2 separate regions of the Homo sapiens genome follow, and region 2 is linked to region 1. A link means that fine-mapping ties the variant in region 1 to the expression of a gene that starts in the linked region. Tissue or cell type: monocytes. Region 1 holds a variant in brackets; the other region holds the start of a gene. All regions are shown on one strand. Distances are from middle to middle.

Region 1 (8,342 bases):
CTAGTATACAGTTAAAAATTATTTTTTTCTTAAAAAAGCCTTTCAAGAGGAAGAATACCTGTCACAAAGCATTTCATTTGTGTAAGAGGTAGGAGGCACCCTAATTAAGTCCACTGATGTACTGTGTACAGAAATGTTACATAATTGATTTAATAAGCTTGGTTGCCTTATTTTTTTCTTGACCACTTTCCACTCTTCCTAATATACTGTAAGTCAGCAACTTGGAAACAAAATAAGTTAAGGGGTGCTAGAAACAAATACTCAGTTGTATGAAAAGGATCAAAAACACAATTCCAGAAAAATACAGGTCGGCAGCCACTTACAATGGGGGGGAAATAGTTTATGATGATAGTCCTAAATTACCAAGGAAAAATTAAAGTGTTTTAATATATTCTAAGAAAGCACATGTGTACAATCCATTTAATACTTTCATCAAATGATTAAAGTAAAACAAACATTAGTTCTTAGTAAGCTAAGCTTCATTGATCTAAAATATTTACCTACAGGACATGTTTTCTTCCTTGAGAATGCCATAAAATGAACAGACCTGTAATAAAATCAGAGCTCCTAATCTTCACTGAAAGAAAGGGCAATACAAGCTTATAGAGAAGAAATACGAATTTCAATTTCCCACCAATCGTATACATCATAAAGCATCCTGGGATCTAAAACACACATACCACTTAACAATAACGTTGTGTTGCTTGTTAACTTTGGTGCATTGATTAAAAGTTATCTGAAACTTAAAAATCTAGTCACATTCAATATAAATATCCTAGACTTTAGAAATCTGGATTATTTTGGCCAAAGTGTGGTGGCTCACGCCTGTAATCCCAGCACTTTTTTTCGGGGCGGGGGGGTGGTTTGAGGGGGGTTGTGGTGGTGATGGCTTGAGGCCAGGAGTTTGAGACCAGCGTGGCCAACATGGCAAAACCCCATCTCTACAAAAAATACGAAAATTAGCCAGGCGTGGTGGTGCAGGCCTATAATCCCAGCTACTCAGAAGGCTGAGCGGCAGGGCGATAACTTGAGGCCAGGAGTTTGAGACCAGTGTGGCCAGCATGGCAAAACCATGTTTCTACAAGAAATACAAAAATTAGCCAGGTGTGGTGACCTATGCCTGTAATCCCAGCTACGTAGGAGGCTGAGGTATGAGAATCGCTTGAACCTAGCAGTTGCAGTGAGCCAAGATCGTACCACTGCACTCCAGCCTGGGCACAAAGCAAGTCTCAAAAAAAAAAAAAAAATCTGTATTGACAATGTCCCCAAAATCATATTAGAGCAGACATTTAGTGTCCACAGCCTAAACTTTTTAAAGTATATGATAAGATTATAATTAGGACAATTTGGGACACGACTAATATTTGAAAATACAGAACAGTACTTTTCTCTCTTCACAGTGTACCAAACAGAAATATTTTTTGTTTAAAATGTTTGCAAAAAGTAACATGCTATAATAATGAGTGGTAATAAATACATAATAAGAAGTCATAAAAATGTTCTGAAAATTTAAGAAGTAGGACCTTGCCTTTAGATCAGTAGTAGTCTTAAATGTCAACAAAACCTTTTATGACTATTTTTGTAAAAGATTTTGTAAAAATTCTACTTCCCAGATTACCAATCCTTTTACTACAGCTCAAAATTACAGGGCTGCATTGTAATATCTGTAACTATGGTTTCCATTTTATTTTGGAATGGAAACTTCTGCAACTCTAACATTACACCAATGTCATCTTGCTTTACATCACCTTATTAGAATGTTAATGCACTTCAGAATGAAAGTGTGCCATATATTTTCATTTCAAAAACACCCACAAACTAAAATAGATATTTAAAATCTTTATTGTTTCATCATCAAAAGTTTTCTTTCCATAGAAGAATGGTAATATTGTATCAGTGCATATTCTATGGAAAATTCATATCTCAAGTAACTAGCCTAGAAATCAGAGACAGCACTATGTCAAGCTAGTATACAAGGTCAAAGACACAATGCTGCCAATGCAGTTAGTATATAGAAATAATACGCAGCTGTTAGAAAAAGTCTGTGGCCAAGTGGATAAAACAGTAGCAGTGCACTGCACTGACATCCAGAACAGAAAATAGGGAAGGACCAGAGAATGCACTTCCTGCAAAAAAAAGTCCAGTAGATCACAAGCACAAAGAGTTCCCAACTGTCTCACCAGCTCTCTAACTCATGTGTACCTGCACCTTCCTCTTGAAATCTGAACATTATAATACCACAAGCCACTTTCAGCCTCCAGTGGGAAGGCTCCAGCCACACGCCGATATTTCGTCCTGCTTCCCGTCATCTCATATCTAAAAGTCATGGCTTAAGTTAGGCAATAAAACCTGTGGCTTTAGGCATCTTTAGTAAAAAAGCTGAACAAATCCCAAATTTATTCCCATTTTCTTGAGAAATAAACTTCATAAAACAACAGACAGCTGTCATGATTACTGAGTTTTGGCTGATGGCGAAATAATTTTTATGTAAGTATACTGAATAAACATACAAACAAATATCCTTAACAAAATACTGTCAGACCAACTTGAATGTTTTTATAACCCACTCCTGAAAAAAGTCCTGATAATTATTAGATGTAAACGACCACTATAAATTGATCATGCCTGGTTACTGGGAATTTTTTGGTCAGGTATGTTTCTGAAGCTGCTATATAGCTGGACTTGGCTACTTTGCATTAACTCACACAACAAATGCCTTTTATAAGGAAACAGCAGATCTATCATGATGAACTCAAAATCAAAACAGTTCAGAGGTATACAGGAAACTTGTCTTAAAAATACTTTTAAATTACATATGATATAACCTTAGAGAATAAGAACTACTATTACCATGGTCTAAATCTTAAACTGTTAATGCATGAATTATCTGTAAGACTAACAAGTTACTTGTTAATCATGGCAAGGCCTTGCAGGGGAGGGGGCACTCTGAATGTACGGCATAGCAATTATTTTCCAGGTAAGTAAACACTTCTAAGTGTTATTAAACTATATTTGAAAAGTTATTTTATGTAATATATACAACATACCAAATAAGTCAAAAGGAGGAAGCAGAGGAAGGTTTTCTGGCATATATGATGCAAACATACAACTGTCCCTCATCAGTAGTGGTTCCATGTATGTCCATTTTAACAGGGTAAAACATGAAAGGTTGATAGGAGATCACAAATTTCACTTATAAATAGAAACAGGATTCAAAAACTGGAATTTCAATGTCATTTCTTCCCACATTGCAACTCACTCTAACAATAATAAACATAAATAAAAACCTTATCTCAAAAATGTTTTTACACCCTTACCTTAAAGTTTAACATAAATTCTTCTAACAATTGAGAAGAAAAGCACTCCTCTGTAGCAATTCCATAAAATAATTTTCAATCCACAAAACATCTGTCTACCAGTAAAACCAACAACCCTTAACGGAGGGCATGGGCATTAACACTTGGCCCCTCTGAGGTATAAATGCAGCTATATTTGCACTGAGTATACAGTCTATAACGTATGCCAACCGTCTGTATGTCTGCATAACATTGGGAGTGATGTCATCCTGACTGACTGAAAACTTATTTTTATAATTTTTTGTAATAATGGAGGCTAAATAATTTTAAGAGAAAAGATGTACTTGACCAGTAATAGAGCCGGCGGAATTCTGAATTCCTAACCAATGCAAATGATTACATTAAAAAAGTGTTTAACATTGCATATTGATTCCAAAAAAAATCAACCTAACAGGAAAAACACATAAATATTTAAATTCAGCAGGACACCACAAAAAGCATACTATAGATAAGTGTGAAATCAGTCAAGCTTTTCCAAAAGAGAAAATCCTTTTAATCCTTCAGCAAGTCTCTGTGAAAATAGTATGCTTACAATAAAAGTGAGAAGGGAGCACCTAAAATACCCCCAAGAGGCTTGCTATACCATTCAGCATTAACTGCCCCATCTCCTGTGTGCGTGAATGGCCAACAAATGACAGGAAGTCCATTTGACAATAGTTCAGTAATTTCTTTTCACCACTGCTGCCAGCTGAAGTCGTCATTGCTTCCAAAGACCAAGAAAAAGCCTAGTATAGTTGCAAAGATGACTGTGTTTCCTGTGAGAACAAGTGCACAAGCTCCCCACTCAATCTATGGAAATAAGATACACTCAGTCAACAGGCATGAAAAACGAAAGGAAAATAAAAAAAAAAATCAAGGCTCTAGTTGTATCCCAATTATGATCTAAAAGAAGCATGCCTTGTAACAATAATTGTCACAGTGCTGAACACATACTTATAAATATATATAGTATAAATATATATAGTAAAAAAATATATAGTATAAATATATATAAATATATACAGTATAAATATATTTATAGTATAAAAGTGGTACTTTTATACTAGTATTTTCATTTACCTTTGGTTCCTTTAAAAAGAAAGTCATGAAATGACCATTCAAAAACAAGCTTGACTTCTGGGCTATGAAGAAGCAGCATAAAATTCTACAAGTTTCTGTTTATAAAGGAATGTGCTTACTCTTCCTTAATATAAAAATCTATCTAGAGTAGATTAAATTTTAGCATATCACAGATGGAAACACACCCATGTACATTCTTTTGAAGGGGTGGGAAAACAATTGCCTTCTCCATATGGCTGTCTTCTCTACCTCCCCAGAGATGAAGGCGCGTGGATCAGTGAGTTTGGGAGGAAGAACTGAGTACCCGTAGCCAGCCCCTTCCCCTCTTCAGTGCTTTTCTGCCTGCAGAGCACATGCACCTTCTCAGGTCTTCCATATTTTAGGTTTTACAGGATAGGCCTGGGTTGTTCAGCACTGGGGGAGTTGATATGCTCAACTCTGACAGTTAAGTATTAGCAAGCCAGACGGGTGCGGTGGCTCATGCCTGTAATCCCAGCACTTTGGGAGGCCGAGGCGGACGGATCACGAGGTCAGGAGGTCGAGACCATTCTGGCTAACACGGTGAAACCTCGTCTCCACTAAAAACACAAAAAATATCAGCTGGG[C/T]GTGGTGGCGGGCACCTGTAGTCCCAGCTACTCGGGAGGCTGAGGCAGGAGAATGGCGTGAACCCGGGAGGCAGAGCTTGCAGTGAGGTGAGATCACGCCACTGCACTCCAGGCTGGGCGACAGAGCAAGACTCCATCTCAAAAAAAAAAAAAAAAGAAAAAAAAAAGTATTAGCAAGCCAACAGCTGCTGCAGATCCAAGCCACGTTCTCCAATATCACTTTTATTAGTTAACAAGAACAAACAATAAAGTGAGATTTTAATCTCTATCTTCTAGGCTCTTATGTCTTTCACCTCTTTTCATGTCATTAACAAAAACTTTGCTTGAGAAAAATGTAACACATGTTCAATATAAAATCATTAATGGAAGAATATATTCACTTACCAGATGTGCTCTGGCAAATACAATAGGGAGTCCAAAAGCTGACACGACAATGCCCGTTGTAAGAAAGATGGCAAGTTCCTTACAAGCGTTACTCATAGCATCTGTATCATCCACTAATCTTCTTGCTATGCAGTATGGAATAGGTGAAAGGATGTAAAAAAATAGAACAAAGAGGGGCCAGTATTTGCTAGAAAAAGAAAAATAAGTTAATGTAATTTTTGCTATGTCATTTTCCTACACACAAAATATGGTCTTTTTAAAAAATCAAGATTCAATCGCTTGACTTCTAATGGATGATACCCAACCTTAGCATAAAGCTGAAACAACCCTAAACTTCCCTTACAACACGAGGAACTCCCAAATTACAGAAATCAAAATACAGAAAAGAAGCTAAAAGTAAGAACACTTTCAGTCAGAATATAGAATTTATCACAATAAAAATAGATGGCTTTTACTCTACATCTAGTTAACTGTATTGTACCACAGTCATTTCCTGGTTTTGATAACTATGGTTATGTAAGATCTTATGACTCTGGCAGGCTGTGTGGAGGGTACAGGGGACCTCTGTGTATGATTTTCACAACTTCTTCAGAATCTAAAATTGTTTCAAAATAAAAAGTTAAAAAGAAATAGATGCCCTTAAAACTACCATAGAATAAAATAGGTATCATGGTGGAGATCTGATTGTACAGAGGCTAATGATAAGCAGCTACTTATGTTTCCTAAATTTTTTTTTTTTTTTTTTGAGACAGAGTCTCGCTCTGCTGCCCAGGCTGGAGTGCAGTGGCATGATCTCGGCTCACTGCAACTTCTGCCTCCTGGGTTCAAGTGACTCTCCTGCCTCAGCCCCCGTGACTAGCTGGGATTACAGGCGTGCACCACCATGCCCGGCTAATTTTTGTATTTTTAGTGGAGATGGAGTTTCACCATGTTGGCTAAGCTGGTCTTAAACTCCTGACCTCAGGTGATCCACCCACCTTGGCCTCCCAAAGTGCTAGGATTACAGGCATGAGCCACTGCGCCTGACCATTTCCTAAATATTTTAAGAAAAAAAATTAAAAATTGAATATATGCTTAAGAAAAATAATTCAAACAGTACAAAAGCACAAAAAGTAAAGACTAAAAGTTCCAAATCTCCTCTTGCCCACTTTCCTATTGAGCTTCTCAGGGACCCTTCCACATTTCCACATAAACTTTAAAATATGAATGGGTCCCTGCAGTTTTCTAACAATATGTCTTGAACATATTTACATGTTAGCACTTACAGCTCTTCCTCATTCTTTTTAAGACTGCCTAGTATTTCCATTAAAAGATTTACTATAATTTAACCATTTTTCTTTTGAAGGACATTTAGGATGTTTTCAGAATTTTTTTTGGCTCTTATAAATAACGCATAAAACAACAAAACAAAAACAAAAACCAAAAAATAAACAAGGCTGCTTGAACATCCATACTCTCCCCCACTAAATATATCTTTGTAAACATCTGCAAGTGGGTTTGTATCAGAAAGTCTAACAAGTGAAAGGGCTAACTCAAAGAATATATACTTTGAGAGCTACAAGCAAACTTATCTCCAAGAAAACTATCTATGTGTACTCCCCCCACAGCACAAAAGAGTCCCTGCTTGCCCTGTCTCTTGTCTTTGTCAATAGATTTTGTTTAGTTTTGAGTGAGGCTGGGGATATTTTTATGTGCTTATTAGCAATTTGTAGTTCTCTTTTTGTATTTATTTTTCTATTGAGTTGTCCATCTTTTTCTAATTTATCTAAATGTTAAAATGTTAACTTTGAGAAGTTCTTTCTATCCTAAGGAAAGAAATTTTTTTTTTTTTTTTGGAAACAGAGTCTTGCTCTATCACCCAGGCTGGAGTGCAGTGGCGTGATCTTGGCTCACCGCAACCTCCATCTCCTGGGTTCAGGCGATTCTCCTGCCTCAGCCTCCCGAGTACCTGGGACTACAGGCATGTGTCACCACGCCTGGCTATTTTTTTGTATTTTTAGTAGAGATGGGGTTTCACCATGTTAGCCAGGCTGGTCTTGAACTCCTGACCTCAGGCAATCCTCCCGCCTTGGTCTCCCAAAATGCTGGGATTACAGGTGTGAGCCACCGCACCCGGCCGGAAAGTAATTGTTTACATCTCTCTCTTTTTTTTTAATTGTGTTTTGACTGCTTATGGTATTTTTTTGCAAAAAGACATTTTAAATTTTCTTGTAATTAGTATTATCAATAGATGTTAAAAACTGAGCAGGAGGGCTGAGGTACTGTGTAGCTATCTTGCCACTGCAGACTCAGCAGTAGTGAAAGAGCAGGTAACAGCCAAAAATATTATTTGCATCTTGGTGTCCTAAAATCTTTAGAAACAAACTTTAAGTGGTGATTTTTACAAAGGTATGTGTTTGGTAAGTGAACATTTCTCTGCATTACTTTTACAGTAGTAAAAAAACATTTTTTTAAGCTTTAAAAGTAGAAAAATTTTACCCTTAAATATTCAGAAAGACAAACATTTTACATACTTGTATATTGGAAGGGCACATCCAAGCATCAAAAACATCAGTCCGATTGCTCCTCCAAAGGACAAACTAATCAAAGCTGCAAAGCAAATAAAAAGTGCAACAGGAATATAAATTAAATATTATTTTTATTAATATCAGCAGTCTGAACATTATCTGTAACCTCAGAAGCAAAAATCCCTAAAACGTATTAATAGCAAGTTGCCATCAGAAGTGTAAGTTATCTAGTCTTAGAATAAGTCTTCTGTGGTATCTTCAAGGCAAAATGAAGTGACACTGGCCTTTTTTTTTTTTTTTTTTTTTTTTGTGAGATGGAGTTTCACTCTTGTTGCCCAGGCTGGAGTCCAATGGCTTGATCTCGGCTCACCACAACCTCCACCTCCCAGGTTCAAGTGATTCTCCTGCCTCAGCCTCCTGAGTAAGCTGGG
Region 2 (8,342 bases), 24 kb after region 1:
TACAGGCACATGCCACCACATCTGGCTATTTTTTTTTTTTTTTTGAGACGGAGTCTCACTCTTTCGCCCAGGCTGGAGTGCAGTGGTGCGATCTTGGCTCACTGCAAGCTCCGCCTCTCGGGTTCACACCATTCTCCTGCCTCAGCCTCCTGAGTAGCTGGGACTTAGGCACCCGCCACCATGCCCAGCTAATTTTTTGTATTTTTAGTAGAGACGGGGTTTCACTGTGTTAGCCAAGATGGTCTCGATCTCCTGACTTCATGATCTGCCTACCTCGGCCTCCCAAAGTGCTGGGATTACAGGCGTGAGCCACTGTGCCTGGCCACATCTGGCTAATTTTTTAAAAACAATTTTTTGTGGAGATGGGGTCTTACTATGTTGCCCAGATTGGCCTCAAACTCCTGGTCTCAAGTGATCCTGAGCCTCGGCTTCCCAGAGTGCTGAGATTACAGGTGTGAGCCACCGTGCCTGGCCCAAAGCACTTATTTATTTGAAATGACATGATTTGTTGGCTACCTCTCCCACTAGAATGTTTATTATAACAACCTTTCATCTTTTGTTCATGACTGTCCAGAACTGTACATGGTACATGGTGGGAATCTAAAATAACAAACATTCTCTTGTTAAGGTAATTAGTGATTTCTACATTGCAAAATTCAGAGACCAAATTTTGCTTCAAGCTTTCAGCAACAGTGGACACTGTTGACCATTCTTTCTTTCTCTCAATTACCATATCCTATTGTCCTAGTTCTTCCTCCTTCTTCACCAGAGGTTACTTCTCAGATTCTTTCTAGAATCTTCTGCTTGAGGTTCAAATGTTAGTGTTTCCATAGCCTGGGCCTCCTTTTTTGTGGTATCTCAATTCTCTCATGTTACTGTGTCTCTTCCCACATGTCTTAGTTCATTTTGTGTTGCTATAACAGAATACCTGAGACTGGGAAATTTATAAAGTATAGAGATTTATTTCTTATGGTTCTGGAGGCTGGGAAATCCTAGGTCCAGGGGCCTGCATCTGGTGGGGAGCTTCCTGCTGTGTCATTTCACGGTGGTAGGCAAAAGAGAAAGGGAGCTGAACTCATCCCTTTTATCGGGAACCCACTCCCCAATAACTAACCCACTCCTGTGATAATAGCATTAAGAGCTCTGCCCTCATAACCTAATCACCCCTTAAGAGTCCCCCCTCTCAACACTATTGCTTTGGGGAATAAGTTTCCAACACATGAGCTTTGGGGGACACATTCAAACAATAGCATCATGACATTAAATGCTATCTTTATATTTACAACATAACTACCAAATTTACCTTAGTTTTGAACTTCAGACTTTTACAGTTTATCTATTTATTTGACACGTCTACCTGGATGCCTAATAGTCACCTCAAACTTAACATGTTGAGCATAGATTCTCTATTATCTCTTATTTCAGTCCTTGGTCCCAGCATTGGTTGGTTCCATGCCGAGGCCCCACTGCTCTGCCATCTCTTATTCCACTCTTCCCCTAACTTACTTTGCTTCAGTTATGGCCTTGTTTGCCTCTTGTCCCCCAAATTTTGTTTTATTCACTGCTGTATCCCCAATACTGATAACAGTGCCTGGCAGGTACTGTTAGGTACTAATAGGTGCTCAATATAATAATCTGGTAAACATAAAGTGTTTTTTTGAGTTCTGTGAGCCATTCTAGCAAATTATGGAACTCAAGATGGGGGGTTATGAAAACCCCAATTTATTTGTTGAGAGGGAGTCTCTCTCCATGGTCCAGGTGCAGTGGGGCAGTCTTGACTCACTGCAACTTTCGCCTCCCAGGTTCAAGCGATTCTCTTGCCTCAGCCTCCCAAATAGCTGGGATTACAGGTGTGCACCACCACGCCCAGCTATTTTTCCTATTTTTAGTAGAGGTGGGGTTTTGCCATGCTGGCCAGGCTGGTCTTAAAGTCCTGACCTCAGGCGATTCACCTGCCTTGGCCTTCCAAAATGCTGGGATTACAGGCATGAGCCACCACGCCCGGCCTGGAAACCCTAATTTATAGCTGGTTGGTCAGAAGCATAGGTCACAACCTGAGACTTGTGATTGATGTCTGAAGTTGGGGCCATCTTGTGGGACTGAACTCTTTATAGGATCTGACCAAATAACTCTTCCTCGAAACACAAAGTTAGGGCTTTTGCATCCACTGTTCCCCAGATGGGAAGATGAGTCCCCTGATCTTTGTACGGCTAGTTCTTTCTCATCATTCAGGTCCCAAGCTTCAAAAACCACTTCCTCAGCAAGGCCCTCCCTGAAGTTGTGTCCCCAGGCTCCATTATATCACCCTGTTTTTCATCAATGTTATTACCTATCATTACCTATTATTTTTGTTGTTTAATTGGTATGTCGTTTGTCCTATTCTATTTCAATGAGTACAGGGATCTTGTCTGTACCATCCATGCCTAAAACAGTGCCTGGTGCGTATTAGGTATTCAACATATATTCATTGAATGAATGAATGAATGAATGAATGAATGAATGAATGAAAGAAACCCAAGCCTGCTAGACCTCAAAAGCCCAGAGAACTGTTTTCTCTGGCTGGTTCTTCATTCAGACGATATTTTCTCCTCTTGACATTTTATAGTCTTCCGGCCTCCATGCGCAAGGAACCATGTAAAGGTTCTGAGCCTTGAAACCAGACAATGTATTTCCCTGTTACTTTTCGCTTGAATCTTCTCTGTATTTAGCAACCAGTCATAGAACACTAACCATGTACCAAGCGCTATGCTAAGTGCTGAACACATAGAGCTGAATAAAGCACAGAACTACCCTTGGTACAATTATTGAGGTTTTAATAATACATAATTTGACTACATTTCTTAGATTTCGCGTCGTGACGTTTTCAGCCTCTCAAACTGCATCGCCTACGCACAGAAGCTTCCCGAATCTCAGACGAGACACAACAAAGCTGCGCGCTGCCCTCGCCCCGCCCGCGGGCGCGGCGGCGACAGGCCCTCGGCCCCGCCCACACCGCGGCGCCACGCCTCCAACCCGCCTCCAGCCGTGCCTCCCCAGGCCCTTGGCCCCGCCCACACCGCCTCGCCCCGCCCCAAGCCGCGCTGTGCTCCAGGGGCGGGGGCCCACGGCGGCCACTCACTGAGCCCCACGGGCCGCAGCGGCAGTGACGTAGGGTTGGCGCACGGATCCGTTGCGGCTGCAGCTCTGCAGTCGGGCCGTTCCTTCGCCGCCGCCAGGGGTAGCGGTGTAGCTGCGCAGCGTCGCGCGCGCTACCGCACCCAGGTTCGGCCCGTAGGCGTCTGGCAGCCCGGCGCCATCTTCATCGAGCGCCATGGCCGCAGCCTGCGGGCCGGGAGCGGCCGGGTACTGCTTGCTCCTCGGCTTGCATTTGTTTCTGCTGACCGCGGGCCCTGCCCTGGGCTGGAACGACCCTGGTGAGTGCTGCCAGGGCCCTCAGGCGCTTCGTTCGCCCTTTTCCGCCGCCGTCAGCCGGTGCAGGCTCCCCTGCGTTTCCGTGCGCCGTCTTCCCGGAGCCTGGGTGCCCGGATTCCCCATGTCTGACCTCTTTGCTGTTCGTGCTCTCCCTGGTTCCACTGCTCTTCCCAGGCGTCTTGGGAGGCGGGTAGGGACTGCTCGAGTGGGCGGGGCGGGACGGCTGGAGATCCTTAAGGTCCCCTTTCTCCCTGCCCCGGACTCCCGGAATTTGCCCATTGTCGTCTTTCTCATCTCTGAGTATAACTGGAGAGCTGGACACTCACCTGCGCATCTGCTTTGTTGTTATGGCTGTGTGATGTCATCGTGGCCTGCTGTTGTCATGGCTGCCTGTTGCTATCGCCGGCCGTTGCCTGCCACTGGCAGTCTCTGAGTCACCCTTAGCGGACAGGGCTGCAGACCTCGCAGGTCTGTTAGCAGAATCGCAGATTGCACTCTTTTTTTTTTTTTTGAGTCGGAGTCTCACATTGTCGCCCCGGCCGCACTGCAATGACGTGATCTCGGCTCACTGCAACCTCCGCCTCCTGGGTTCAAGAGATTCTCCTGCCTCGGCCTCACCGGTAGCTGAGATTACGGGTGCCCACCACCATGCCTGGCTATTTTTTTGTATTTTTAGTAGAGACGGGGTTTTACTATGTTGGCCAGGCTGGTCTCGACCTCCTGACCTCGTGATCCACCCGCCTTCATCCTCCCAAAGTGCTGGGATTACAGGCGTGAGCCACCGCGTCTTTATGAGAACCGCTGCCTCTTATCTGACGATTGCAGTGATGTACATCGCGCGGCACCAGCTCTTCCCATTGGCTTTCACCGTAGAGAAGAATTTAAAAAATAATTTTCTCGGTTTTTTTTAGTGATGGTACATGATAAGTGGGTTTTAGGAAAGAGGTTCTTTTATGTCAGTACAGTATTAAAATTGTCTAAAGAATTTTCATGGGATCAGTAATATTCCGTGCAATTAATACGTATATGTCTATATACTTAGATACAGATTTTGACTTTTTCCATGTAATAAATGACGCATGCTGTTACTTTGGAATTCTGTAAAAAAAAAAAAAAATGAAAACAACATCATTTTTGCTTTGCGAAGTAAAGATGGCATGGAAAGCATATTGCCTTTGTGATTTGGTGATTGGAAATGCCTGCATTGTCGAATTTAAGCAACAGGTTTATTTCTATAATAGCCTATTCTTACATGCTGAAATGAGAGAGAAGGTGCTATTTGCAAGCACATCACGTTGAGTAGTCATTTGATGTGGACATTTTATTACCAAAAATAAAAAGCCAAGTTGTATTTAAATGTCTGTACGTTTTTCTTTTGTATTTCTAGAAAGCTGTGTATGAGTGGGAGACTTGATCAGAATTACAAGTGAAAACCTAGAATGAAACTTTAATTTGTTGAACTTTGAATCAGTTCGTAAATAAATTTAATAAAGGAAGTTTACAGTTGAAGAGCCAGAAGAACTATAAAAACTATGAAAGAAGAACCAAATTTAAATTAAAGATGAACCACTTCCTGGTTTATCTACGCTGTAAAACTATTGTTCTGGAACACAAAGCACCACAATATTTTGCAGAGTAAACTCAATTGTTTTATGTAAATTCTACTTCAAAGTTTACTTTGAGGAACTTTTTTGTTTTGTTTTGTTTTTTTGAGACAGTTTCACTCTTGTCGCCCAGGCTAGAGTGCAATGGCGCGATCTTGGCTCACCGCAACCTCTGCCTCCTGGGTTCAAGCGATTTTCCTGCCTCAGCCTCCCGAGTAGCTGGGATTACAGGCATGTGCCACCATGCCCGGCAAATTTTGTATTTTTAGTAGAGACAGGGTTTCTCCATGTTGGTCAGGCTGGTCTTGAACTCCCAACCTCAGGTGATCCGCCCGCCTTGGCCTCCCAAAGTGCTGGGATTACAGGCGTGAGCCACCGCACCCGGCACTTTGAGGAACTTTTTAAATGAAGATACTTTATTGACATACTATTTATTAAGTCCTTTACTAAAGCATTAATCGGCTCCCTAATTTATCTTTTGTTTGACTTGGATGCCATTACTTTAGCTCACATTGAGCAGTAATTTGTCTGGAAAAAAAAATTAGCACCATTCTAAAGAGATTACCAATGAATTTTCAAAATTCCTTATTGAATGTAATCTTATATTAAGTTACTCTTCCGGGTGTTGGGAATATAGCAGTGAACAAAACAGTGTCTTGCCTCCAAGGACTTTACCTCTATTGGGGAGAAATAGACAATAAACAGATAAACATGTAAATAACATGCTATATTGTGAAAATTGGTATGCACCGTGTATGATAAACAGCGTAAGGAGGACATGGTGTGCGGGCAGAAGTGGAGACTTAAAAAACGTACATTGGTCAGGGAAGTCACTGTTAGGGTGACATTTGACTGGAAACCTGAAGTGGGGAGGAGGAGTAAATGACCTGAAATTACTTATATCTTTAAAGGCTCATTTGGGCTGCTCTGTGGAAAACAGACCGAAGAGGGTAGGAGGGAAGCAGGGAAACCAGTGAATTAATATATATTGCTATCTATTTTAATATTGTACAGTAAGTTCTTAGAGTGGTGACCGCTTGGCCCAGGGCAGGAGCAGTAGAGAGCTGGTTAGAGTAGCTGGATTCTCTTGTCACCTGTTTGGAAGGTGGAGCTAACATGATCTTCTGAAGGATCAGATGTAGGAGTGAGAGGAGAGAAGATGAGAAGTCCAAGGTTTTTGGCTTGAGCAACTAGAAGCATGGAGTTAACCATTTCCTGAGATGTGGAAGAATGTGGGATGATCAGGTTTAGGGGAGTTTGGTTTTGTTTATCTTGTTTGAGACCTGCCGTGATTTTGATTTATGAGTCTGGAGTTCAGGGAGCTCCTGTGTCCCTTGACTGATCTAACTAGTGGGGCGTGGGTATTAGAATTTTGTTCTTGGACCTTAAGAATCTCTAGGGAAGAAAGATGCTATAGGATTATGGTAATGCTATTCCATCTTAAAACTTTCAGTAATATTTATCATACCTGATCACCTGTTATGCTTCAAGTACTCAGCCAGATAATAAATTATATCTAAGCTTCACAACAAATTTCAAGGTTGATAATATTTTAATTTTGTAGGTGAGGAAACTTCTACACAGGTAAATTAAATGCCTTGGCCAAAGTCACAGCCAGTTAGTGACACCAACTTAGTTCAGTGTTCTTTGCATTATTGCAACTCTGTTACAATAAATTCAATTTATTATTTCTGTTATTTAGTTGATTAATACAGTCTGATTTTTCTAAACCATTGAACATTTTCATTGTCTTATTTTTTATGTATGAGGAGGTAGTAGTTTGTGTTTAATGTAGCATGGTTTATTTGAATATAGTTCTTGGAAATTTTAGATCTGTAGCCCATGTGGAATTAAATTTTTATATAGCTTTAGGTGGATTTTCTTGTGGCTGCATAGTCAATTATGCCAGTGCTATTTATTAAAGAAGACATCTTTTATCCACTAAATTAAAAAGACCACTTCATCTTACTGAATTCCCAAATGTATCTTGATTTATTTCTGATCTTTCTTTTGTTTCACAATTTCCTTGTCTCTGTTCCAATTCCCTACTATTTTGATTATAATCTTTTTTTTTTTTTTTTTTTTTGAGATGGAGTTTCACTCTTGTCGCCCAGGCTGGAGTGCAGTGGTAGCAATATCAGCTCACTGCAACCTCCACCTCCTGGATTCAAGTGATTCTCCTGCCTCAGCCTCCCAAGTAGCTGGGACTACGGGCGTATGCCACCACGTCCAGCTAATTTTTGTATTATTAGTAGAGATGGGGTTTCACCATGTTGTCCAGGCTGATCTCGAACTCCTGACCTTAGGTGATCTGCCCTCCTTGGCCTCCCAAAGTGCTGGGGTTACAGACGTGAGCCACCGTGCCTGGCTGATGATAATAATTTTATAGTAACCTTTACTATCTGGTAACCTATGTGTTCTTTTTCAAAAAAAAATTGTCCACAGGACCTTTAACATAATTTCTTTCCCCAAAAAACCCTATTGGGTTCCTGGTTGGAAGTATATTTAGGTCTCTCTCTCTATATATATTTTTTATATAGATAGGGTATTGACCTTAAGTTTATTAGATTGATTAGATTCATATTAAATACTTGTGGGAAATACATCATAGGAGATGTTGTAACATCAGTTTGTTCCACCATTAGCAAAGCGATGGTTGGCAAACCCAGCCAGACTTTTTCCTTTAGAGTTTTTGAATATATTTCTCCATTTTCTTTTTCTATCCTGTTGAGATACCTGAAGCTTTTCTAAGTCTTATCTTTTCTATATGGCTTGTTTTCTCCCTATTCTTCTGGCAATTTGTAGAATCTTTTTTTGTCTTCAGTGTTCTAAAATTTACTTTTCGTGTGCCTTTGTGTGGTCTGTTTCTCAGGCCTGGGTATTTGTTGGGCCCTTTCAGTATGACAACTCAAGTCCTTCAGTGTGGGAACTTTTCTTGAATTACAGCCTGGAGTTTGTCTAATCAGATTCCCTTGTTCATTCTTTCAGAAGCCCTTGTTGGATTTTTGGACTTTCTGAACTGGTCCTGAACTGGTAATTTTCTTTCTTTCTTTTTTTTTTTTTTCCTCCTACTGTCTTTTTTCTTTCTTTCTTTTTTTTTTTTTTGAGACGGAGTCTAGCTCTGTCCCCCAGGCTGGAGTGCAGTGGCACCATCTCGGCTCGCTGCAACCTCTGCTTCCCGGGTTCAAGCGATTCTCCTGTCTCATCTTCCTGAGTAGCTGGGATTACAGGTGCCCGCCACCATGCCTGGCTAATTTTTGTATTTTTAGTAGAGACGGGGTTTCACCATATTTGCCAGACTGGTCTCGAACTCCTGACCTTGTGATC

The links. PIP is the estimated chance that this variant, and not a neighbour inherited with it, causes the effect.
Region 2: SARAF starts here. The variant in region 1 is fine-mapped to the expression of SARAF in monocytes (TOPMed, PIP above 0.99). The same link has a PIP of 0.9 or more in blood mononuclear cells.

What each region holds. Positions count from the first base shown.
Region 1 is chr8:30,101,549-30,109,890 of GRCh38, reverse strand. It overlaps LEPROTL1 (leptin receptor overlapping transcript like 1), which reads right to left. Exons shown (of 4, transcript NM_015344.3): 2 at 7,918-7,993; 3 at 5,405-5,591; 4 at 1,367-4,145. The coding sequence ends at 4,029. Among named protein-coding and RNA genes, the nearest start is that of LEPROTL1, 10 kb to the right of the region's middle. The variant C/T (reference allele first, on the strand shown) is at 5,021.
Region 2 is chr8:30,077,918-30,086,259 of GRCh38, reverse strand. It overlaps SARAF (store-operated calcium entry associated regulatory factor), which reads left to right and starts at 3,196. Exons shown (of 6, transcript NM_016127.6): 1 at 3,196-3,413. The coding sequence starts at 3,311. RefSeq lists a silencer at 2,873-3,242 and an enhancer at 3,283-3,632.